Homo sapiens: one gene and its partners. The protein of the gene in region 4 purifies or fractionates together with the protein of the main gene of each other region. This does not show direct contact. Each region holds a gene or a part of one and is shown on either strand. Other genes may lie near its edges. The genes, in order: DDX50, MOB2, SIPA1L1, DEPDC1B, RPRD1A, SRSF12 and PRP4K.

Evidence for each region.
Region 1: the proteins of DEPDC1B (region 4) and DDX50 purify together in Homo sapiens (affinity purification with mass spectrometry, with the first as the bait; one large-scale study listed by BioGRID). This does not show direct contact.
Region 2: the proteins of DEPDC1B (region 4) and MOB2 purify together in Homo sapiens (affinity purification with mass spectrometry, with the first as the bait; one large-scale study listed by BioGRID). This does not show direct contact.
Region 3: the proteins of DEPDC1B (region 4) and SIPA1L1 purify together in Homo sapiens (affinity purification with mass spectrometry, with the first as the bait; one large-scale study listed by BioGRID). This does not show direct contact.
Region 5: the proteins of DEPDC1B (region 4) and RPRD1A purify together in Homo sapiens (affinity purification with mass spectrometry, with the first as the bait; one large-scale study listed by BioGRID). This does not show direct contact.
Region 6: the proteins of DEPDC1B (region 4) and SRSF12 purify together in Homo sapiens (affinity purification with mass spectrometry, with the first as the bait; one large-scale study listed by BioGRID). This does not show direct contact.
Region 7: the proteins of DEPDC1B (region 4) and PRP4K purify together in Homo sapiens (affinity purification with mass spectrometry, with the first as the bait; one large-scale study listed by BioGRID). This does not show direct contact.

Annotation. Positions count from the first base shown.
Region 1 is NC_000010.11:68,899,829-68,904,114, forward strand, and holds the start of DDX50 (ATP-dependent RNA helicase DDX50), read left to right. Parts: upstream 1-1,486; 5' UTR 1,487-1,556; coding exon 1,557-1,643; intron 1,644-2,227; exon of another isoform or gene 2,228-2,598; intron 2,599-4,286. UniProt on the Homo sapiens protein: ATP-dependent RNA helicase that may play a role in various aspects of RNA metabolism including pre-mRNA splicing or ribosomal RNA production.
Region 2 is NC_000011.10:1,473,280-1,476,779, forward strand, and holds part of MOB2 (MOB kinase activator 2), read right to left. Parts: intron 1-3,500. UniProt on the Homo sapiens protein: Stimulates the autophosphorylation and kinase activity of STK38 and STK38L.
Region 3 is NC_000014.9:71,669,976-71,673,475, forward strand, and holds part of SIPA1L1 (signal-induced proliferation-associated 1-like protein 1), read left to right. Parts: intron 1-1,143; coding exon 1,144-1,717; intron 1,718-2,372; coding exon 2,373-2,647; intron 2,648-3,500.
Region 4 is NC_000005.10:60,693,667-60,697,166, reverse strand, and holds part of DEPDC1B (DEP domain-containing protein 1B), read left to right. Parts: intron 1-3,500.
Region 5 is NC_000018.10:36,061,060-36,064,559, reverse strand, and holds part of RPRD1A (regulation of nuclear pre-mRNA domain-containing protein 1A), read left to right. Parts: intron 1-3,500. UniProt on the Homo sapiens protein: Interacts with phosphorylated C-terminal heptapeptide repeat domain (CTD) of the largest RNA polymerase II subunit POLR2A, and participates in dephosphorylation of the CTD by RPAP2.
Region 6 is NC_000006.12:89,104,572-89,108,071, reverse strand, and holds part of SRSF12 (serine/arginine-rich splicing factor 12), read left to right. Parts: intron 1-813; coding exon 814-918; intron 919-1,044; exon of another isoform or gene 1,045-1,391; intron 1,392-2,116; exon of another isoform or gene 2,117-2,182; intron 2,183-2,521; exon of another isoform or gene 2,522-2,541; coding exon 2,542-2,645; intron 2,646-2,811; coding exon 2,812-2,953; intron 2,954-3,500. UniProt on the Homo sapiens protein: Splicing factor that seems to antagonize SR proteins in pre-mRNA splicing regulation.
Region 7 is NC_000006.12:4,055,800-4,059,299, forward strand, and holds part of PRP4K (serine/threonine-protein kinase PRP4 homolog), read left to right. Parts: exon of another isoform or gene 1-453; intron 454-521; coding exon 522-636; intron 637-727; exon of another isoform or gene 728-889; intron 890-1,236; coding exon 1,237-1,388; intron 1,389-2,928; coding exon 2,929-3,015; intron 3,016-3,500. UniProt on the Homo sapiens protein: Serine/threonine kinase involved in spliceosomal assembly as well as mitosis and signaling regulation. Connects chromatin mediated regulation of transcription and pre-mRNA splicing.

The DNA of each region.
Region 1 (4,286 bases), on a different chromosome or scaffold from region 4:
AAAGGATGTGGAAAACCGCAGATCTAGAGATGCATAGCTATTCTCATAACCTAGGAAGAGAGGTGGATTTCTCCGTCATCAATAGCTGAACACTCCTTGTGTTTCTAAGTATTGAATCCATAAAGTTACATGCAAACATACAGCCCTTGCCTTCAGGCCAAGCCGTAGTTATGCAGAAGGCTTGAAGCAATCACAGATTTAACATTTGTGGTTCCAGCTATTCAGGACCAATTCCCAAACTCCACGACATGTAACAATTTGTAATTTTGCTAGGACACAGTTTGATGCTTAGGTTTTAAGGCTGGTGTGCTAGACGTTATCAAGTGGTTTGTGAGAGTAGCCCTGTGTCTCCATTGGGTAGAGTAGCTGGGTCGCAAGGATCATGAAGAGATGAAGAAATGGCTGTGAAAAGCCAACTAGCCTCGGTGATAGTAAGCAAAGGTATAGAAACACTAAGGAAGTTACCCTTTGTATTGTCAAAGGTTTCAGTTTTGTGTAAGGTGGTGATTCACGGGCAGTTAATCTCCATCACTAAAATTAAATCCTTTTTTATTCATTGCAAATAGATAATCTGTGGAAGACATTTTGGCTTTTCTCGCTAGCAGAAAATGTGAGGCTTCTTCAGGTTTTTCCTGTTCATTGTTTCACGGGAGCATCTTCCCCAAAACACTGCAAAACTCAAAGTTCTCAGGCTGATGTGGCAGAAAGAGCATTGATCTCGGCTTCAGGAGCTAAATTCTCTAGTCCTGACTGTGCCACTAACAGACTGTGGGACTTCAGACAAGTACATTCCTTTCTCGGGTTTCTTATGTCAAATGGACAGCGTGAGAAGGATCACAATGAACCAGGGATCAGCTTCACGATTAAAACCTAAGACTTAAGAGACGGACATCTGTCCGTTCCTGGCTACACCTCCGGCCCATCTGGCCCACCCCAAACTGCGCGAAGCCCCTCTCCACCGACGCCAGGCCTGTGGCCTCGCGCGAAGCTGTTGGTCGTTAACATCTCCCCCGCAATGGGCGGGATGGAGGGCTTCAGCTTCCGGCTGCAAATGGCGAGGCGGCGCGCGGCGTTGCCCACTGGCCTCGGCATGGGCCTGCCCACGCACCCGCCCAGCGCGCGCCGGACCCTGTCTACCGCCGTTGAAGGGCTTCCCAGCCCTAGCAGTGCGTACTGGGAAGCCCCCAAAAGGCTCTGCGAGGCCGAGGAGACCCGTTCGGAGTGGGGGAGGGGAAGATAAACCGAACTATTTATGTTAATCAGTGCATGCTTCCTTTATGGAGATTGGCCAGGGTTTTACTCTAGTAACCAATCACTTCAGAACAAGGGCGGGCCCGTTGATATCTCTCACACTCATTGGTTGAGAGGTTGCGGCGCAATGGAAGGTCTTAAACCGAGAGTATCCGGGATTATTTTTCCCCGCCGTGCGGTGCGTGTCCCGGAAGTGACGCATGGCCAAGGCCGGGCGGCCGCCTTGCCCCCGCTTCCTTTCACGCTGTCGCTGCCCGTAGGTGGTTGTGGCCACTGTGCCCGGAGGGAGGCGGCGGTGGCCAGTAATGCCTGGGAAACTCCTCTGGGGGGACATTATGGAGCTGGAAGCACCCTTGGAGGAGTCCGAGAGCCAGAAGAAGGAGAGGCAAAAGGTGCGCTGAGCATGGGCCGCGCCTCCTTTTGGGCTGCGCCGGCTTGGGCGGGGAGGGGAACTGTCTGTCCCTGATGATGGCCTGTCAGAACCGGGCCGGAGCATCCGAGGGCCTCCCTTCGCGCCGCCCTCGGCCCTCTGGGGTCGCTCAGGGACCGTTTCCACCTCCACCCTCCCGACCTGGAGAAAGATGGCCCTGGGCTTTGGGCCTCTCCTCCGCGTGGCCCCTCAGCCCTTCCCGTTGGCGCCTGAATCTCAGATGGGCAGACTCAAGCTCCCATCACCATGGAATCTGTTCTTTCTCTCCTGAAGCAGTGACGCTTGCCATTTCGTTTTCATTGGCCCTCTTAGAAGATGATTAAGAAAAAATGATTGCTTTGAATATGTGTTGCTTCTGTCACCCCGTCCCCTGTGCAAGAATCCTGGGGAAAGCGATCTTAGGTTTACAGACCTCAATAACTAGTCTGTAGAGGCTTAAGGAAAAGTGTCACTGAGACTTGCCAGGATTTGTCAGTGATGGAGATCGTGTGGGTTGCATTATTAATAGCCTTTACTGTCAGTATTTTCATTCAATCCGCAGGTGTTTATTGAACCTAATTTGTACCATACTCTTTGCTGAGTACCAAGGAGGTTAAACTAAATAAGTAAAGAAATGGTCTCTGCTCTCAAGGAGCCTGTAGAGGAGTTGTAGTCTTTCCTCCTCCCAGCCCCCTGCCCTCCAAAAAAAAAAAAAAAAAAAAAGGAAAAGAAAAAACATCCTGAAACACTCAGAGGATCACAAGGTGCTGAAAAAATGCCCAGGTAAAATTATTACTGGAGACATTTGACCTGGAAAAAAGAAATCAGCTGAAGAGGCTAAGGTGGCAGTATTCGAAGGCTGACATTCGACAAAAGAATGAGACTTATTTTGTATAGCCTTAGAAAGCAGAATCTACCTCTCTGACCTTATCACTAAGGTAAACTTGCCATTTCAGCTAACACTTTTATTGTGCTAAAATACACATAACGTTTATCATTTTAACCATTTTTAAGTATATAGCTCTGTGACATTAAGTATATTTACATCGTTTTGCAGCTGTCACCATCATCCATCTCCAGAACTTTTCATTGTCCCAGACTGAAACTCTGTGCCCATTAAACACTCACTTCTCATTCCTCTCTCCTTCCACTCCCGGCAACTACCATTCTACTTTCGCTCTGTGAATTTGACTACTGAAGTTACCTAGAGTGTAAGCAGAAAACCAAGCAGGTATTTTAAAAAAGGCTTCTTTTGAAATTCTTGTCTTTTGCATCCCAATCCTGTCCAGCGGTCAAGGCCTAGTTTATGTCTTTCCTGACAACCCGAATGTACCGTTATCTAGTTTCAGTGGCTATCTTCATCATTTGATTGACATTTGTTATGCATGTCTATATAAAATTAGTTCATTTTTCCTGTATGTATCCCACATATTTCCCAAAAGTTCTTGAGGAAAGTGACCAAATCTTTATCCATCCTTATGTTTCACTATGTTGTTTTAAATTGGTGGCTTTCACATTGTAAATTCTCCAGAAATACATATTGACTGCCCTTTAACTATGAAAGATAACCAGAGATTTGGAAACGAATTGGAATACCAACTAAAAGAAATAGAGCATTAGAATACAGGTCTGGTGGCTAGCTGCAGTGGCTCATGCCTGTAATCCTAGCACTTTGGGACGCTGAGATGGGAGGATTGCTTGAGCCCAGAAGTTTAGGTAGAGTTTTGTAGAGACCCTGTCTCTACAAAAAATAAAAAAATTAGCCGGGTGCGGTGGCTCATGCCTGTAATCCCAGCACTTTGGGAGGCTGAGGCAGGCAGATCACCTGAGGTCAGGAGTTCAAGACCAGCCTGGCCAACATGGTTAAATCCCATCTCTGCTAAAAATATAAAAATTGGGCCGGGCATGGTGACTCACTCCTGTAATCCCAGCACTTTGGGAGGCTGAGGCGGGTGGATCGTGAGGTCAGGAGATCGAGACCATCCCGGCCAACATGGTGAAACACCATCTCTACTAAAAATACCAAAAAAGGCCAGGTGCGGTGGCTCACGTCTGTAATGCCGGCATTTTTGGAGGCTGAGGCAGGTGGATCACCTAAGGTCAGGAGTTCGAGACCAGCCTGGCCAACATGGTGAAACTCCGTCTTTACTAAAAATACAAAAATTAGCTGGGCATGGTGGCACATGCCTGTAATCCCAGCTACTCAGGAGGCTGAGGTAAGAGAATCGTATGAACCCGGGAGGCTGAGGTTGCAGTGAGCTGAAATCGCACCACTGCACTGCAGCCTGGGTGACACAGCGAGACTCCATTTAAAAAAAAAACCCAAAAAACCCAAAAATTAGCTGGGTGTGGTGGCGCGTGCCTGTAATTCCAGCTACTCGGGAGGCTGAGATACAGGAATTGCTTGAACCTGGGAGGCAGAGGTTGCAGTGAGCCGAGATCGCACCATTGCACTCCAGCCTGGGTGACAGAGCAAGACTCCGTCTCAGAAAAAAAAAAAAAAAAATTAGCTGGGCGTGGTGGCAGACGCCTGTAATCCCAGCTACTCGGGATGCTAAGGCAGGAGAATTGCTTGAACCCAGGAGGCAGAGGTTGCAGTGAGCCAAGATCACGTCATTGCACACCA
Region 2 (3,500 bases), on a different chromosome or scaffold from region 4:
TCCCAGGCTGCAGGCCTCACCGTGGGCATCGCCACCAGGCTGTCAGACCCTCTGAGAATGCAGAGACAACAGTCCTTTCAGCATCTGCTCCTCGAGAATGATGTAGAGGACGCACGTATCCCCACTGTCCTGGGGTTCCCAGATGGTGTAGGGGAGGCCCAGCCCCTAAGGGCCAGGCTGAGGCCCATGTTTCCAGGGCGAGGACCCAGCCAGGATGGCTCAGCACTCTGCAGGAGTCAGACACTGGCTCCAGGTACCCTGACACTGCAAGCTGACATCTGATGCACCTGGCCACAGGTGTGCGACAGGTCTCAAAACAGTGGAGGTTAGAGACGGAAACCCTTTTCCACAATGCAAACCCAGAGAAAGCAGTAACTCAGGGACACTGTGGATTGTCCCATCTGTTCTGAAAGATGGAACACCACTGTTTCCTGTACTTCTTCAATTATCAGTAAACCGTTTCTGGTATATAGTTCTAAGATTTTTATCCACATGTGGACTCACGCATTCATAACCACAATCAGGACACGCGGCGGCTTACGTGGCCCCTCACACCCGTGCTGCTGTGCCCCCAGCACCCCGGGGATGGCTCCTCAGGGATGGGCCGCGGGAAGGAATCGCACCGCGCGGATCCTCCCGATCTGGGCCCCTCTTGCACGGAGGCCCCTGGGATGCAGTCACGTGGCAGACGTGTCGGAAGTCCACGGCTCCTCACTGCCCAGACACTGCCCCTGCAGAGATGGACATGGCGTGCTCATCTATTCACCTGTGTCCCTGCCAGCAGAACAGAGTCCCAGGTGGCCACATCCTGGCCAGCACCAGTGTCCCGACCGGCATGTGGGCAGGTGGACATGGGTCTGCCCATGGTTTCGGCTTGCCTTTCTCTAATTGCTAACAACACAGGATAGCCCCAGCTGCCATCCTTACACCCTCTTTGGCAAACTGTCTGCTCATTTCTTTTGCTGACAGTTAACTGGACTGTTTTGTTTTCTTACTGCTGAGTTGTGTATGTTCTTTATGTATTCTGGATATCAGTCCTTTGTGGGATGTGTGATTTGCAAATGTTTTCTCTCCCAGCCTGGAGTTTGTCTTCTTTCTCTTAAAAGTGTCTTGAAGCAAAAGTTCTGAATTTTGCTGCCTAGTGTCAGGTCATAAGGATTTCCTATGGTTTCTTCCAAAAGCTTTGGAGTTTTAGATGTTTGCACGAGGCATGAGGGATAGGTCAGCGTTTGGTTTTTGACACAAATGACTGCTTTTCCCAGCAGCATTTTTGAACAGACTACCCTTTCTCCCTTGAATTTATTTTGCTCTTTGTCAAAACTCTGATGGCCCCGTTTGTGTGGGTCTATCTCCGGACTCTCCATCCACACGTTTGTGTGGGGCTGTCTCCGGACTCTCCATCCACACGTTTGTGTGGGTCTATCTCCGGACTCTCCATCCACACGTTTGTGTGGGGCTGTCTCCGGACTCTCCGTCCACACGTTTGTGTGGGGCTATCTCTGGACTCTACTGTGTTCCATGGAGCTCTGTATCCATTCCTTCAACACTGCACACTGTCTTAATTACTAGAGTTTCACAGTAAGTCTCAAAAGTGTGAGATTCCTCTTATTTTTTCAAAATCATTGTAGCTATTTCAGTTAATTTGTCCCTCCATATAAATTTTAGAACTAACTGGTCTATACTTGAACTCTGCTGGGATTTGGATTGAGACTGCACTAAATCAACAGATCAGTTTGGGGGAGAATTTGTGTTTGGAGTCATCTTCCAGGTGATAAACGCAGTGCGTCTCTCCATTTATGTAGACCTTCGATTTTCTGTAACAGCATTTCGTAGTTTCCAGGGTGCAGATCCTGGGAATGTCTTGTTAAGTTTATAACTAAGGATCGCATTATTTTTGGAGCTATTATAAATGGCATGTTAAATATTAATTTCAGTTTTAAATTTCACATTGCTAATATACAGACCTATGACTGATTTGTGCGTGTTGACCTCACTAAATTTATATTATTATTTGCTACAATCCTTGAGGTTTTCCCAATCACACGTGTGCACAGGGATACAGCAATCCCCCCCATCCACAGGGGATGCACTGCAAGACCCCCAGGGGATGCCTGAAGCCACAGAGAGCACCAAACCCTATATATGCTGCGCTTTCTCCTATACATACATTACTAAAATAAAGACAGGCAGACTTGATTGATTGACTGAGATAGGGTCTCGCTGTGTTGCTAAGTTAGTCTCGAACTCCTGAAGTGATCCACCGCCTCAGCCTCCTGAGTAGCCAGGATTACAGGTGTGAGCCACCACACCCAGTGTAATTCATAAACTGAGGACAATCAGTTGCAGTGAGTGGCTGGGGTCGCATATCAGGGGGTCCCTTGCTGGCCTCCTGCAGGCTCAATGGCAACACGCTGCTGCTCCCATCCTCTCACCTCCTCCACCCACAGATCCAAGTACTCAACACGCACTGTGGCTGTCACTTTTGCAATTTCAGATGTAACAGCGAAATTAAAGGGACTTTTTTTCCCTTTTTCACAATTTCATAAAGAAGAGATTTGTTCTTACCTTAGATCTTAGCAACCTCACACACAATCTGTTTCTTTCTAGTCAGGAACTTTCACCTTTTCATCTTTAGGTCAAGGAAGTGCTTTCTGTCTTCTCTTTGGCATATCTGAATTGCCAGCATCACGCTCTTGCGCTTTGGGCCGCCTCATGTCACATAAGAGCAACCTGAGCACGAGCACCCTGGCACTGCGGCAGTGGATCCACACGGGGGCCGAGGCACAGCTGGGCCGAGGGAGGAGGAGGCACACCTGGAGCAGGACGGTGGAGACCGCATCACACTGCTCAGAACAGCATGCAGTTGAAAACTTATTAACTGTTTATTTCGGGAATTTTCCATTAACTATTTTCAGACCATAGTTGACTGTGGGTAACGGAAACTGTAGATAAGGGGGGCTTATTGTTTTATTTCTTTTCCAATTTGGATGCCTTTTATTCTTTCTTCTTACCTTATGGCACTGCCTATCTTAGGCGAGTTCTGATATACTGCGCTTTCCAAAGAGTTGGTCCATTTAACCCAAGCCATAGAATTCATGTGCACAGAGGGTTTTTTTCCAATACTTCCTTATTATCCTTTTAACATCCACTGGGTCTACAGTGATACTCCTCTTTACATCCACAGGGTTTAGTGACACTCACTCCTTTTTATTGATCATTGCATCTTCTCTCTTATCTTTGTACCTACTAAAGGCTTACCAATTTATTACCTTTCAAAGTCATCACATTTTGATTTCACTCATTTCCCCTATTGTTTTAAAAATCAATCTCAGTGCTTTCTGTTCTTATTTACTTTCTTGTCCTTGATTTTGACTTATTTTGCTCTTTTTCTAGTTTAAGTTGGAAACGTAGATTACTGAAAGTCATCTTCTTTTTCTAAGAAAGCATTAATCCTATAAATCCCCTCTAGGCACTGCTTGAGTTATGTCTCACAAATTCTG
Region 3 (3,500 bases), on a different chromosome or scaffold from region 4:
TCTTCAATTTTATTTGAAAGATGCATACTCTCTGATGATGCCATTTCTATTCCAAGAGTTCAGAAGAAACCGATTTTTTTATTGTTTCCCTAATACTAAGTATAATTGCATAATTTGTTCACTTTTAATTTGGAAAGAGCGATCTTCGATGTGTTAGAATCATTTCCAGTCATGTCAAACTTTACTAAAATCTTGGGAAATGATATAAAACACTCAACCTCTCTATTTCTATATCAACAACTTCCTTTGTTGTTTTAGGAGAAACTTACTTTTTTTCCTTTTGAGGTTAAAAATAATAAGTTATTACAAATGTTCATATGATCCTTTTCTTAGGCCCAATTTTAGGAATATATAGTCAGAAGAAATGACTGGAACAGGCTTTCTTATATCAATCTTGCTTAAAGGAATGGGAGAAGGAAAATATTTTTCTTAGAAATAGATTATCAGAATAAAATACCAAAAGGACCAAGGAATAGCTCAGTTTAAAAATATGATTTTAAAGCGTTGTTGCTATTACATAAAGATTCTCATACTATTACTCAGATTCCAATTTTCATTTTAAAATTATGCTTTTAATCTGGTTGCATAATGCCTCACACTTAGGCCAACAAATACTAGTTAAGTTTTATTGAAATTTAATTCATTTCTTTTATGGCATGCATCTTCTGATATTTTCAATGTAAGCTGTCTGCTTATAGCCATCATATCTAAAATGGAGAACACATTTGTGTTCTCACAGAATGTATGCTTGTTCTGAAAGATGATGTGGTTACAGTAACCTCCCTTGAAAACAGTTAGTAGGTATTTAAAATGTCTTACACAGAATATTACAGTAAACCTATTTTTTTTCATGGAGTTTTGGTCAGTTTCCTGTCTGGTAAAAAAAAAGTTAATAGTGTTAGCTTTTGGGATTTTGGGAGGTTTGTTTTTGGCCTAGAAAAAAAATTATGTTGTGTAAATCCTAAATGCGGTAGAATGAAAAAATATACTCGTATTAAGCAGAAATGTGTGTTGTTTCTCATGGAAAAATAAGCAGCTATTTTGTATCTGAGGTACATCTTTGTCTTTGAGAAAGTATATTTTATTCTGATGTTGTGAGACTGAGAAATACTGACGTGGCTCTCTTTGATCTTTGTCTCTCAGTGTGGCTGTTACCAGGTCCAGAGATGTGCCTTCCTTTGGGCCTCCCATTCCTAAAGGGGTCACTTTCCCTAAGTCAAATGTGTTCAGGGACTTCCTTTTGGCGAAAGTGATTAATGCAGAAAATGCTGCTCATAAATCGGAGAAGTTTCGGGCCATGGCAACTCGGACCCGCCAGGAATACCTGAAAGATCTGGCAGAAAAGAATGTCACCAACACCCCTATCGACCCTTCTGGCAAGTTTCCGTTCATCTCTCTGGCTTCCAAGAAGAAGGAAAAGTCTAAGCCATATCCAGGAGCCGAGCTCAGCAGCATGGGGGCCATTGTATGGGCAGTCCGGGCTGAAGACTACAACAAGGCCATGGAACTAGACTGCCTTTTAGGGATCTCCAATGAGTTCATTGTGCTCATTGAACAGGAAACAAAGAGCGTGGTCTTCAATTGTTCCTGTAGAGATGTGATAGGGTGGACTTCAACTGACACCAGCCTCAAAATCTTCTATGAACGAGGAGAATGTGTTTCAGTGGGTAGTTTTATTAACATTGAGGAGATCAAAGAGATTGTCAAAAGGTTGCAGGTGAGTCTCTCCTTCCTCTTCCTTACATGCAGTTTCTCTTTCATAAAGTTTTCAATACAGACTAGAGCCAAGTTACTGAACCTTGTGCTCTGTTATTAGCTCCTCTGAAAACTCCCTTGATGTGTGAAGCAAACAGAGTTTATCTCATGCTTGTGTTTTCCATGGATGTTTCGGAAAAGTAGAACAAATTGGGGAAGACACATTTACTCTGTGTGTGTGTGTGTGTGTGTGTGTGTGTGTGTGTGTGTGTGCGTTCATGTTCAAAACCCATTTGCATGTGACCTGTTCCCTGGTGCTGCAGTCCAGTCATCTGGTGGTGGTGTTGAAAAGAATTGCTTGAGTATCTGCTGCCTTGAATTTTACAAAGGCTAAATGAGTAGCAGTATATGGTTTCTATTTACTGCCAGCTCCCTGTAGGTCTCTGGTAGAGGTTTCCTTGTAACTTCAGGGAAGCCGTTGAGCTTTTTGGATGCAACAAGTATATTCCTTTTGGCCTAATGAATAGGAGATTAGTGAAGAGGAAATAACCAGACTGCTCTTCAGCTGGCAATAAGGTATTCAGAACTAACCCTGCTTGCAATGATTTTCCAGTTCCATGTCCACCACTTAATACCCTATTGCTTTAAACCACAGTATCTTTTATTTCCTTGTCTAGTTTGTTTCAAAAGGCTGTGAATCGGTGGAGATGACTCTGCGAAGAAATGGGCTAGGACAGCTTGGCTTCCATGTCAACTATGAGGGCATTGTGGCGGATGTGGAGCCCTACGGTTATGCCTGGCAGGCAGGGCTGAGGCAGGGCAGTCGCCTGGTGGAGATCTGCAAGGTGGCGGTAGCCACTCTGAGCCATGAGCAGATGATCGACCTCCTGAGAACATCTGTCACGGTGAAGGTTGTCATCATTCCCCCGCATGATGACTGCACCCCGCGGAGGTAGGTCTGAGGAGACAGCTGTGGGCCTGAGACTCGAGTGCAGGGTTTGTGTACCATGTAGAACATCTCTTAGCAGGTAGTGGAGTAGGGTGTTGTGAAGAACAATAGGTTACATGTGATGCTGAATGTTTCATCCATGGAGTCTGACTCAGGACGAAGCTCCCTTTCAGTGTGTGGTGACAGCAGCTGGAAAGAGTGACTAAATGGGACCATTCCCAGGATTTACATCACTGGATTTATAAAGTTGCCATGACAGATAGAGAAGTCTGGTAATATCTATCTTAAGAATTTTCCACTGGGAGCTGAGAAACATTGAACACATTGAACATTAAAAGACACTCAACATCTCAAATTGTCAGATTGCTTTTCTTCTATGTTCCATGATGCTCTTATTCTCTTCTCTCTCCTAATTGCTGCCCAAAACTCAGCAATTGTTTGGACCTTTGCTGTCTCAGTCTGGCAGCTGCTTTCCTAACTGTATCTGCATGTGCTAGGGTTTGGCTTCAGGTGAGCTGCCCCTGCTCATGGTGCTTTGGCATTTTGGTTCCTAGTCTTTTCCAGAAGGGAAAACCTAAGAGCTCCCTGCCCCACCCAACCCCCCACAGCTCCTGCCAAGCCAGCAGCACTGTTGAAAATTTAATTTCTCTGTCTCTGGGGAGGTTTATTGGTGGAAGAAATTTAATCAACTGTTTATTTTCTCCTTTGGACATGCACATGCTATTTTTGCTAGTTTTTAAGATCTCTCTTTTTAGTTTATGCCATTATTTTCTAAGAATTTCTCTTAAGCTTTGGCAATTGATTCTTAGGCTTTCTAAAGCCAAGACAGTGTTCTGTGTCCTATTTTGCCACTAAG
Region 4 (3,500 bases):
TATACATTTTCACTGAAATAACTTTCATCTTTGTAAACTTGGTATAAATAGTTCATTCAAGTAGAGAGAAAAATTTTTTTTCTAGAAACTGCTTAAATCTTTGAACTTATTCTGAGTTATATATATGGTCTGATGCAACTGATAAATTTTAAAAGACATACAGCTTTCATTGAATCTGAGAGTTAGAATGGCAAGATCACACAACGAGGTTGTGGCAAGTGCAAGTAGATCTAGGAGTGGTTGTCACTGAACTCCCAGACCAGTCAGTTTTCTTTATAGCACCGCTATCATAATATTTTTGGTACTAAGAAGAAATGAAATGGAATATCCTGGAGAAAAGAACAGGATGCACAGCAGTAGGTGTATGTCTTATAGTTTGCCTCATCATGTTAAGAAAAAACAATTGTGTGATTTTATTTTTTCCTGAGAAACTAGGGGACTGAAATTAATAAGTAGAGCAAAACAAAAAGTGTTTTAAAATCATAAAACAAATCTGTTTTGTTCCATTTGTTGTAAAGATTCTCTTCAAATATAATGTCATGAAAAAAAAACTCAAGCTCTTTCTTGTTATTTATTGACAGAGGATATTTTGTTTCCAAAAGTGACTGAGAATGGTATATTGTTAGATTATTTAAAGATACTTATTTTTCTTTCTGAGCAGAGTAGCCAAATAACCCCTTAGTTATATTTGGAAATAAGTGGGAACAGAGACCAAAGTGACCTCAGTAGGCTTTAAAAAATCTAAAGTATTTCATATATTAAGGAAATATAACCCATAATGATAAATGCCATTCAAAATCAAAATGAGTAAATTCAAAAGTCTATTTATAAATGCTCTTTTTAAAAGGGGCAATGAGACTTTGATAAAGATGTTTTATTAGACATTTTCTAGTATGAAATAAAAGTCAGTAGCAATAGAGCAGTTAATCCATTCTGAATCCTAATGGATTTTTTTTTCCTGTGTGGGAGAATGCAATGAATTGAAAGCTCATGCTGAAGAGTAAAATTCTGAGAACTGAAAAAAGTTTTCCCTCACAAAAAGAAATGAACTTCACAAAAAGAAATTTTCACGCTGGGTGCGGTGGCTCATGCCTGTGATCTCAGCACTTTGGGAGGCCGAGGCGGGTGGATCACGAGGTCAGGAGATCAAGACCATCCTGGCCAACATGGTGAAACCCCGTCTCAACTAAAAATACAAAAATTAGCTGGGTGTGGTGGCACATGCCTGTAATCCCAGCTACTTGGGAGGCTGAGGCAGGAGAATCACTTGAACCAGGGCGTCGGAGGTTGCAGTCAGCCGAGATCACGCCACTGCACTCCAGCCTGGGCACCAGAGCGAGACTCTGTCTCAAAAAAAATAAAAAAAGAAAGAAGTTTTCACATTCCCTTACAAAGAAGACAGGGGCCTTGTCCTACCAGGGATTTATACTTGGTATTAATTGACTGTAATGACAACTGTATGGTATTACACAGGAACAGATAGTCGCTCAGTGGGATAGAAACAATCAAGAAGTGTGATATGTAAGGTTACTTAATAATATTTCTGTTCATTTAGAAAAGCATGGCATAATTGACTCTTGATATGGTTTGGACGTTTATCCCCTCCAAATCTCATGTTGAAATGTAATCCACAGTGTTGGAGGTGGGGCCTAGTGGAGGTGTTTGGGTCACTGGGGCAGATCACTCATGAATGGCCTGTTGCTGTCCTCATGACAATGAGTGAGTATTCACTCTGAGTTCATGTGCGATCTGATTGTTTAAAAGTGTGGCACCCTGTCCCTCACTCTCTCTTGTTCCCCCCTTGCTGTGTTATGTGCCTCCTTCTGCCTGCTTCCGCTTCACCTTCTGCCTTGAATAAAAGCTTCCTGAGGCCTCACCAGAAACTGAGCAGATGCTGGCACCATGTTTCTTGTACACTCTGCAGAACCGTAAGCTGATTAAACCTCTTTCCTTTATAAATTACCCAGTGTCAGGTATTTCTTTACAGCAACGCAAGAATGGACTAACACAACTCTCCATCCAGAAAAAAATAGAGATCCCCTGCCTCCCACCATATAAAATTCAGTTAAAGGTTTACATATTAAAAAACATACCCTCTAAAATATTAAAAGGAAATTTTGATAAATATTTTAATACCTCAGGATAGGGAAGCTTTCTTAAGAGAATAAACCCTGAACTGATAAAGAAAATAGATAATTATTTCCTTATAAAAACATCAACATCTACAACAAAATCATTGTATAGCTAGAGACTATGTAAAGAAATTGATAGGCTAAGATAAAACATTTGTAACATATAACAAAAAGGTTTAATATTCTATATTCATCAGTACATATTAAATGGGTATACTATATGTCAGGCACTGGTCTTTGTTGTGAGGATATTGAGCTGAACAAAATCGATTAACTTTCCTGACTTCTGTGCCCTTTAAACATTAACAGATTAAACAGTTCTTAAAATTGATTTTAAAAAAGAGATAACCCAATAGAAAAATGGCAAATCTCAGAAGAAGAAATGAATATGACTAAAGGTAAAGATATGAAAATGCAAACAAAATATGGATCTATCATTTCTTTTACATAGATTGGCAGAAATGAAAGAAATGATAACATCTAGTGTAGGCCAAAGTGTAAGGCTTTAGGCTCCCACATTGTTGGTGGAAGTGTGAATTGCTACAACTGATTTAAATATGCTGATACTTTTTAGAAGTCTATCAAAAGTAAACAAAAGCCTTGGTACTTTAGGTTATATAAACAAGTATAACTTGTAACATATTTGTAAAAATTGAACTGGGCAGAACTTGGATGACCATTTGTTAGAAAATGGCAGAATAAATTATGGCACATTCTTAAGAATGGGCTAGATCTGCAGGTATGACGCAGGGAGGTATCTGTTAGGTGCAAAAGCGTGTTTTAGGATAACATATACAACATGATTGATCTCATTTTTTAAAATGGCAAACAACAATAAATGACACACCTACAAAGGAAAAATTCTGTCTATGTGTCTGTATGTGATAGGTATGGAGTAAGACATGCAAACTCTTTTGTGTATACTTCTGTATTTAATTTGTTTGTTTCAATGAGTGTTATTACTTCTGTAATTAAAAGAACAACAGAACTGCTAACCAGACTGGGTCAATTAGTGGATATACCTAGTGATATTTGGAAATATTGGGTCCCAGAGAGCCATGCCTTCATTATGTTTATGTAATGCATAAGGTATTATGCATTAGGTAATTTTAGTTCATGATTATGATTGTTCAACCAACATAAACAAAAATCTTTTTTATTACCCCTTCCCCCGGCCCTACATACTTGATTATGCCTTTTCGGTACAACAATCTAATGATAAATGAAAGCTAGGTATCAGGGCATGTATTAAAAAAATCAATAATCAATGATTAAAAATATGTGAAAATTGTTTAAAGGTATGGTAATATCCATAGGTACTTGGTATAGTGAAATGACTACTTGAAGAAAAGTCCGTAGCACAGGATT
Region 5 (3,500 bases), on a different chromosome or scaffold from region 4:
AGAGTGCTGATTGGTGTGTTTACAAACCTCTAGCTAGGCACAGAGCACTGATTGGTGCGTTTACAAACCTTGAGCTAGACACAGAGTGGTGATTGGTGCGTTTACAATCCTTTAGCTAGACAGAAAAGTTTTCCAAGTCCCCACCTGACCCAGAAGCCCAGCTGGCTTCACCTCTCAATGGCACTCGCCGCGGGACTTTGCGGCACCTAGCTTGGGCACTCTAGCAGCCCAGAGGGAGCTCGTCCCCCATCAAGCCCAGCAGGCACCCACCCGGAACCGCGCGTAGCCCAGGCTCCTGCCGGCGCCTCTCTCTCTACACCTCCCTGAGAGCAGATGGAGCCGGCTCCGGCCTCTGCCAGCCGCAGAGAGGGGCTCCCACAGTGCAGCAGCGGGCTGAAGGGCTCCTTGAGCACGGCCAGAGCAGACGCCGAGGCCGAGGAGGCGCCGAGAGCGAGCAAGGGCTGCTAGGACGTTGTCACCTCTCAATAGGAGAAAGCTATCTAATATTTAATGTATTTAAGAAAATGGTGCAAATGTGGTAAAATTGTAAGATGTGCTTTTAGCAAGGTTTGTGATGTTTCCATATGTTTAAGTGTTTCATAAGTGGAAAACGTTAAAGCATATAAAAAGATGCTTTAGGAGGAGGGTGGTAGTGATGATAGTGTTGATAGTAACGGTGATGCTGATGAACATACCGCTGCCGCTTTAATCCTCATATTAGCCTGGGCTACTCTGCCAAGGGTTTCCTTTTCTTGACAGATGACTGCTTTTGCAGGGTGTAGCCTTTGTGTCCTTCCCCTTTCCTGCAGTTTTGCTCATCAACTTCAGGATTCTCATCTCCTGTAGTTTAATGATAATGGCAATCAGTTACTGAGTACCAGACATTCTTTTAGTTATTTTACCATATCTTGAATCACATTATTTCTGCAGAATAATTATGAAAGGAATCGATCAATCTTGAAAGTATATTACAACAAACTAAAGAAAATTAGTTGAACATTTTGTGTTAAGCTAGGCATTCTTTAGTTTCTCAAAGTGTGTAAAGACAAAAATGTGAGAGTGGGAGAAGCTACTGTTTAAAATAAAAGAATGAGCTGGGTACTGTGGCTCATGCCTGTAATCCCAGCACTTTAGGAGGCTGAGGGAAGTGGATTGCCAGAGCTCAGGTGTTCGAGACCAGCGTGGTCAACATGGCAAAACCCTGTCTCTACAGAAAATACCAAAATTAGCTGGGCATGATGGCGCAGGCCTAAGGAGGCTGAGGTTGGGGGGTCACTTGAGCCCAAGAGGTTTAGGCTGCAGTGAGCCAAGTGCGCCACTGCACTCCAACCTGGGCGACAGAGCAAGGCCCTGTCTCAGAAAACAAACAAACAAAAAAATATAAGAATGAATAAGTAAAATTATATATGTTAGATAATGGTAGCCATTCAGTTATGAAGGTTTCCCTTCTTTTCCTACCTTCCTTATCTTTGTCTCCTTTAAAGAAAGAGTTTCTGTTTGGAGGGATAAACTTCAAGGCCTTTGTGAAGACCAAAATGGCATACAATTTTCCTGATAAATGCAGTAAAGTGTAACCAAAAATGTAAGTGACCATTTTGTTACTTCTTTATTAAGATGTAATTCACATACCACACCTTTTATCCATTCAAAGTATACTATTCAGTGGTTTTTGATATGTTTATAGAATTGTAAAGCTACCACCAGTTTTAGAACATTTTTATTACCCAGAAAGAAACTCCATGCCATTTAGCTGTTGTCCCCAGTCCCCCATCTCTCCCAACCCTAGGCAACTGCTAATTTACTTTGCCTCTATAGATTGGACTATTTTTACCATTTCATATGAATAGAATTATATAGTATGTGGTCTTTTGTGTGTTTTCCATCCATGCTATAACATGGATGAGCCTGGAAAACATGTTAATTAAAAGAAGCCAGTTGCAAAAGACCACTTACTGTCCTTCAGTCTTTTCTATGGCCGAATAGAATATTGTATGAATTTAGCCATTCATCAGTTGATAGACGTTCGAGTTGTTTCCGCTTTTTGGCTATTATAAATAATGCTGCTGTGAGCACTCCTGTACAAGCTTTTTTTTTTTGTGGATATGTTTTCATCTTGGATACTTACTGAGGAGTGGAATTTCTGGGTCATATGGGAATCCTATGTTCAACCTTTTGAGGATCCACCAGGCTATTTTCCACAGTGGGTACATGTTTTTTTTTTTTTTTTTTTTTTTTTGAGACGGAGTCTCGCTCTGTCGCCCAGGCCGGACTGCGGACTGCAGTGGCGCAATCTCGGCTCACTGCAAGCTCCGCTTCCCGGGTTCACGCCATTCTCCTGCCTCAGCCTCCGGAGTAGCTGGGACTACAGGCGCCCGCCACCGCGCCCGGCTAATTTTTTGTATTTTTAGTAGAGACGGGGTTTCACCTTGTTAGCCAGGATGGTCTCGATCTCCTGACCTCATGATCCACCCGCCTCGGCCTCCCAAAGTGCTGGGATTACAGGCGTGAGCCACCGCGCCCGGCCATGTTTTTAAAATACATTCCTACAAGCAGTGTATGAGGGTCCAGTTTTTCTACATCCTTGCTAATATTTGTTATCTTTTTGATTACAGCTGTCCTAGTGGGTATGAAGTGGTATCTCATGATTTTGATATGCATTTCCCAGATGACTAATGACACTGAGCCTATTTTCATGTACTTATTGGCCATTTGGATGTTGTCTGGAGAAATGTCTATTCTGCCTATTTTAAAATTTGTCTTTTTATGATTGAGTTGTAAGTGTTCCCAATGTATTCTAGGTACAAGTATTGTATTAGATTCATACCACAAATATTTTCTTCCATTCAGTGGGTTGTCTTTTTACTTTCTTAATAGTGTCCTTTGAAGGTGACTGTTTTAAACTGTAAATGTCTCAGTCAATACTAGGCTAAATTTTAAAACTTAATATACATCATTAATTTATATTCATTTCTGTAGAAATATTGACCATGAACATACCTGAACTTAGAAACCAACACTAACATTTGGGCTCTTTTCTACACACACTCGCTGAAAGATCTCTATAAGAGCTGTACAAAACAAGATAGATAGGAGGAAATTCTTTGTAGTTGGTGAAGGTCACTGCCTTCCCTAGTCTAGTGATTGTATCCTTTGTACCAGCCTCTTTTATGTTATATTGGTGTCTTAACAAAACTGTAAGTGCCTCAACCCCTTAAAGTATGTTTACTCACCCTGTATTTATTGATTGTGTATTACAATGGTAAAGAAAACAAAGGGAAAACAGTTTATCCCTGCCCTCAGAATTTATAGTCTTGTGGTAAGGGCAACCAATAAACAAAAAATTTTAAATATAAATTTCGTGTTTAGTTCTTTGAAGGAGGAAATCTTTAGTTAGAGGGAAATCATCTCTGCAAGGTGACGTTTAATAAAAGACCTCTTTGAACAAGTTGCGGGGGTAGGGGGGCTTGGGCCTGCAGCCACTGGGAATATGTGAAAGTGCT
Region 6 (3,500 bases), on a different chromosome or scaffold from region 4:
TAAAACATCCATTTTTCTTTAAAGCCTGATAAATAATTTTAGGACTTCTTTAGAATCTAATTCTTGCTATCTGAAAACAAGATTAACATAAACATGAAATTAAAGTGAAGCAAAATGAATGTGTTCTTAGTGAAACAATTACTTATTAGGTCTTATAATAACTTTCAGAGGTGGATATGCTGGGTCAGTGTTTCTGGAAATTAAGCATAACAACCACCTGGAGTGCTTGTAAAGATACAGATTTCCAGCCTCTAATCCATACTTCCTGAATCAGAACCTCCAAGAGAGGTCTGAGAATCTAGGGAGGTTTTTTTCGTGTTTTCTTTTTTTTTGAGACAGGGTCTCACTCTGTCACCCAGGCTGGATGGAGTGCAGTGGTGTGATCTTGGCTCACTGCAGCCTCAACCTCCCCATGCTCACTCAGGTGATTCTCCCGCCTCAGCCTCCCGAGTAGCTGGGACTACAGGCACACGCTACCACACCTGGCTGATTTTTGTATTTTTTTGTAGAGACGGGGTTTCACCATGTTGCCCAGGCTGGTCTTGAACTCCTGGGTTCAAGTGATCCACATACCTTGGTCCCCCAAAGTGCTGGGATTACAGGTGTGAGCCACCACACCTGGCCTGAGAATGTTTTTTTCCTTTCTTTTTTCCCTTTCTTTCAAAACCTTGCATGATTCTTACAAAAAACAATTTTAGATAATGCTGGTCTAGATGATGTTCTTTCTTTTGAAGGTTTCAAGTGGATTTCTGTAGGCAAAATATTTTAATCCAGCTATTCATATTTCTTTGCCTTATTTCTAAAACACTTCAGGCCTGAGGACTTGCGCCGTGAGTTTGGTCGATATGGCCCTATAGTAGACGTTTACATTCCACTTGACTTCTACACTCGCCGCCCAAGAGGATTTGCTTATGTTCAATATCCTTTATTTTATTGTGTGCATGTGAATATACTGTATATGCGTGCTTATACATATATGTATTCAGTAGCATATGTTATGAGATTAATATTGCCTAATTAAATGTGTTTATTTCTTTATCTCAGAAGATCTAAAGCAGTCCACAGTAGCTGGCAAGCACCCCCCAGTTTGAACCAACCTGTTAGCTAGAATCCAAGCATAAACCCAGCAGGCGAGACAAAAGGCACCTAAAGTTCAAGCATCAAGGAGTAAAGAGGGAGGGTGGACACAGATATAAAGACCTGGAAGAGGGGAAGTCTTTATCAAGCAAAAGACAAAGCCAACACCAGGTTGAGACTTCGGCTTTCCTACATTTACTCAGAGTTCCAGAGTCAAAGCCAAGTCTGATTTTGTTGGTTCTGCGTCTCTTATAAAGTCCATCTTGCAAGCCTTAAAGAGTAAAGGTCAAGGTTCAAGATCAAGTGACATTGAGGTAATTGCCAGTCTCGTTTTATATTGTGTATCTTGAGCTTTTTCTGTTTGTTATTTTTTTAATTAAACCAGTGAACAACCTCCTAAAAAAAGTTACTTATTTTTATATAGCTAATTTCCATTATAGCTAGGTTTAATATTATATAATTTATATACATAAGGAAGTTTAGTGGGATATTACAAACCAGTATATGTAATTCCAGATATTTACAGATTGCTTTTATGTTTCTTTTATATTTATATCCCAAGTAGTAAAAACATAAATGTTTGGCTGGGTGCGGTGGCTCATGCCTGTAATCCCAGCACTTTGGGAGGCTGAGGCGGGTGGATCACCTCAGGTCAGGAGTTTGAGACCAGCCTGACCAACATGGTGAAACCCCGTGTCTACTAAAAATACAAAAATTAGCCGGGTGTGGTGCCGGGCACCTGTAGTCCCAGCTACTTGGAAGGCTGAGGCGGGAGAATCTCTTGAACCTGGGCTTACAGTGAGCTGAGATCGCGCCATTGCACTCCAGCCTGGGTGACAAGAGGGAAACTCCATCTCAAAAACAGAAAAAAACATAAACATTTAAAGTGGTAGGTTCAAAAGTAGATACCATTTTTAAAGCACTAAATCCGGTTTTGTTTTAACTCACTTGTATATGTGCAGTTTTGTTTATAAGTAATCTCTCTTAAATGTCAAATTTAAAATTAAGCCTTTTAATGAAAGAGTAATTTTAATTTCAGAATAAAGGCTTCTGCATGCTGATATTCAGTGAAAAATCTGATGGATCCTTTATCTGAAAGAAGGGAGTGAGTCCTAAACAGTTTGTAATTTTATAATGCTAGCCAAATTTGGACTTTTTTTTTGTTTTTCTTGTTTTCAAATTATACATGCATACTGCAGCCACACTATTGTAGACACTAAAAGTACAGTTACATGTTTGTTTTGTTCTTTTTATTTTTAGACTCACTCTTCTAAACATAATGGGTCATTTGTTTTCATGAGAAAAAGTGAAAGTTTTTTTTCTGATTATTCATATTATATTGAAGATGTGAGCTTAATAACTTGAACTTGATTTTCCTATTAATTTCATTTCACATGTAAATAATGCTTTTAAAATATGTTTACTTGATATCTCATGTTCAAAGTGTCCTTAACAGCTAGTCATATTTGAAGATGTTCGAGATGCTGAAGATGCTCTTTATAACCTCAATAGAAAGTGGGTATGTGGCCGTCAGATTGAAATACAGTTTGCACAAGGTGATCGCAAAAGTAAGTGTGACTGAATGCTAGATTTTATTTATTCAGCAGAATGAGTTTCAGTGATGACTGATTTTTTAATTTAAAATTCTTTCAGTAAATGATTGCTAGTTGAGTGGTTGTTACTGTGGTGTTCAGGTAACGAATTATGTCATAAGTCTTGTTCTTTATGTTCCAGCACCAGGCCAAATGAAATCAAAAGAACGTCATCCTTGTTCTCCAAGTGATCACAGGAGATCAAGAAGCCCCAGCCAAAGAAGAACTCGAAGTAGAAGTTCTTCATGGGGAAGAAATAGGAGGCGGTCAGACAGCCTTAAAGAGTGAGTATAAGAGGACTGAAAATTTCATTTTCTACTTTTTCTGGGAAATAGATATATATTTTTTTGATAGGGTCTCATTGTTTCCCAGGCTGGAGTGCAGTAGTGTGCGATCATGGCCCACTGTAGACTTGACCTCCTAGACTCAAGCAATTTTCTCACCTCAGCCTCCCAAGTAGCGGGTACTACAGGTGTGCACCACCACACTGGGCTAATTTTTTTAATTTTTTGTAGAGATTGGAGGTCTCGCTATGTTGCCCAGGCTGGTCTTAAATTCCTGGGCTCAAGTGTTCCTCCCACCTCAGGCTCCCAAAGTGCTAGGATTACAGGTGTGAGCCACTGCACCCAGCCTGGAAAATATTTTAAAGTTTTTATAAACAGTCCACCTTAGTCATTTTGCTTAATGTACAAACATAATCAATTTTTGTTAAAAGATAACACTCTTCTCTATTTATCATATATTGTTATTTAACTTGGGTTTATGGGATTAATTCTTCTGTTAAAGTTACAGACTTAACTTTATCTTTTTACATGAGAAGATAATATATAG
Region 7 (3,500 bases), on a different chromosome or scaffold from region 4:
TAATATTTTTTAGACTTGAAGTGATTGCTAAATTTGGGATCATATAGCAGCTTCGGATGAAGAATATTTTGTTTTTGTCCAAGTTTATTCTGAATCACCCTTCTGCTTTCATTGCCATTGTAATTCTCTGGCAACTGAAAGTTAAGTCTGATTCCTTAGTTATAAAACTTGACTTTATTCAGGTATTCAGGGTCTTTTTAGAAGATGCTTTGCTTCATGAAATTAGATTTTTCTCTCAGTACCCCACCCTTTTAAAAATGCAGTTGTTAAAATTAAATGTACTTTGTGATATCCATTTCCTCACTGAAAACAGTTTTTACTCATTGTAATGAATATTTGATACATATTAACTTTTCATAGTTAGGAAATTGAATTAAAAATAAATAGAAAAGGAATTTTTAAATGAATGTCTTTGTTCTCAGTATTGGAATTAATAAAACTTTTCAAAGCCAATAATTTTTATTTATTTGTATTAATTATTCCTGGCTTGAATTAAATTCCCTTGAAAAAATGTTTTGCAGGTTAATGAATCCAAAACTATTTTAAAGCTTTGCGATTTTGGGTCGGCTTCACATGTTGCGGATAATGACATAACACCTTATCTTGTCAGTAGATTTTATCGTGCTCCTGAAATCAGTAAGTTTCTTAATGTTCTTTGACCTGGGCCATCATATGTGGTGGAAACCGCATACTTAATGTCTAAGCACTGTTTTCCATCACACTTCAGCAGCTGCACGAGTTCATTCATGAGGAAGGGAACCATAGCAAGTTCATCCTCCTCAGGTGGAATGAAGGTAGTTGTGACAGGAGTCTTGATCATGTCGGGCAAGAGTAGCAAAACAGTTGTGGAAAATCCTCGACTTTAGAAGACTGCTCTTGATTATTCAAGGTCTGATTATCACATTTATGGATTGTATGGGACCTTTGTTTTTTCCTGTTGCCTTGGTTGAGGCTGATTAGCACCTCCACCAAAGGCGAAATGAGAAAAGAGAAGAAATACATATTTTCTTTTGCCCTTTAAGTTCCTCCCCTACACCTCCATTTTTTAAGGTTTTTAAGTTTGAGTCTCTATTAAGAATTAGTGGGAAAGAACACAAAACTAATTGTCAAACTAAGGCATGAAGATTGTGGTTATAGTCCAAGCTAAGGTAGCCAGCCCCTCATTAATGGAAATAAAAATTAATAGTCGTCAGTTTTCTCTATCCTCGTATATTAAAACTTTGATTTTGTTTTCAGTTATAGGTAAAAGCTATGACTATGGTATAGATATGTGGTCTGTAGGTTGCACCTTATACGAACTCTATACTGGAAAAATTTTATTCCCTGGCAAAACCAATAACCATATGCTGAAGCTTGCAATGGATCTCAAAGGAAAGATGCCAAATAAGGTAAGACATTAGCATGAGCTTCTTTAAGGTCTTAGTTTCTTATTAACTGACAAGACTGCTGACACTTGCTCACCACTAGTGAGCTATAAAACAAAAATTTCAGAAAGGTGGGTAGATGGCTATCATGATTTCTTAGGGTCTTTCCCTTTTCTGGTGTTTTAAATTAGTGGTTCTAATCAGCCAAGCGCTAAGGATAAGAGAACTTGTTCAATGATGGACAGAGAGCAGCAATATTTTGGGGATACACCCTTATGGGTAAAAGTTTCAAAATGTTTGGAAGACAGAATGGAAAAAGATGTAAGTTGAATTAGGTAAAATACAAGAACATGCTTAGTGGTCAGAGAATGAATAGGTGAATATTAGATATTGTAAGAGGAACTTGATGTTAATTAATTTATTAAAGATTGGAGGTTATTTGAGAAAGTAAGGTACCTTTCTTGGTACCTTTTCTTATTTAATATCTTTCTAACTCACCGCTGATACTTCAGCTATAATGCTAGTTTCTGTTTAACATGAAGCAAGAATGTAAGCATTTATTAAAGTATCTGAGGGCCATAACTTAGCTTTTTTTTTTTTTTTTTTTTTGAGACGGAGTCTTGCTTTGTCGCCCAGGCTGCAGTGCAGTGGCGCGATCTCAGCTTACTGCAAGCTCTGCCTCCCGGGTTCATGCCATTCTCCTGCCTCAGCCTCCCGAGTAGCTATAGGCATGAGCCACCGCACCCGGCTGTAACTTAGCTTTTTAAGATTTCAGCCTATTTGCTGAATTTCTAAAGATTTACACATTTTTCGTAAAGGTCAGAAAACTGTATGGTTTTCAGTTGTGTTTTGTTGTTGTTGTTGTTTTGAGACTGGATCTTGCTCTGTGTCCCAGACTGGAGTACAGTTATAGCTCACTGCAGCCTTGAACCGAACCCCTGGGCTCAAGCAGTTCTCCTGCCTCAGTCTCCAATGTAGCTGGGACTACAGGCATGTGCCACCACAACCAGTTAATTTATTTAATAATTTTTTTGTAGAGATGGAGTTTCACTATGTTGACCAGGCTGATTTGTACATATTGTCCAAATTCTATTAGGTTGGACTTTTTTTAGAATAAGTTACATAAAAATGAGCTATGTTGGTATTAGTTTTAATGAAGTCTGACCTGTATCAGGGCTGTTGGAACATAATTAGTAAAGTGGCATTAGGTTCCCTAACTGCCAAGGAGAAAAAACCTGAGTTTTGTGATATTTTTAGGAAGAAATAATTTAAAGTCTTTGTTGACTCTCCAATTTTAAATAGTGAAAGGACAATTTGATGTTATAATTGTTTTAAGTCACTGCCTGGACAAATATAATTTCATGTTATTAAGTAGTTTTAGGTACAGCATTGGTATTTGCTTTTGCAAAGATGTTAATGAATTCCTGGGATCAAGGGAATCTGAGATCAAACAAACCTACAGAGACTAAATAACATACTTATTTGACTTATTGTATATTAATTAAATTGTTAGTAGGCCTGTTTCATAATAGTTCAAAACCCAAGTTTTTGTTTTGTTTTGTAGATGATTCGAAAAGGTGTGTTCAAAGATCAGCATTTTGATCAAAATCTCAACTTCATGTACATAGAAGTTGATAAAGTAACAGAGAGGGTAAGTGTTTTAAATGCAGCATGCAATAGTTATTTTATTGTTAACTGAGTACTAAATCATACGAGCTGGTGAATTAAAAAAAAAACAAAAACCCAAAAGTAAGTATTTCCTTTTTGCTGTCGACCAATTCCTAAATAAAACACATCAGACCATGGAAAAGATGGAGGGATTTTAAAATGTTTTTCTAGCATAATTAATTTATTTTTATTATAGGTCATATTTAGGCCCTCGTCACATCTTCTTTGGATTACTTTCTTGGTCTGGCTTCCCATCCAGCTTTCTTATTGCTGCTAGAGTGATGTTTCTGAAAACATATCTGGTCATGTTCCTATCCCTGCTTAAAAACCTTTGTTGGCTCCCTGTTACCTATGAAATAATATTTAAGTTCCTCAGAATGACAAATCCAACTGCTTTCTTCAGTTTTCAGACCTCTCTTCAGTACATTCAGAACCCCCACCTTTCCACATTTGGCCAGAAGGCGTGCT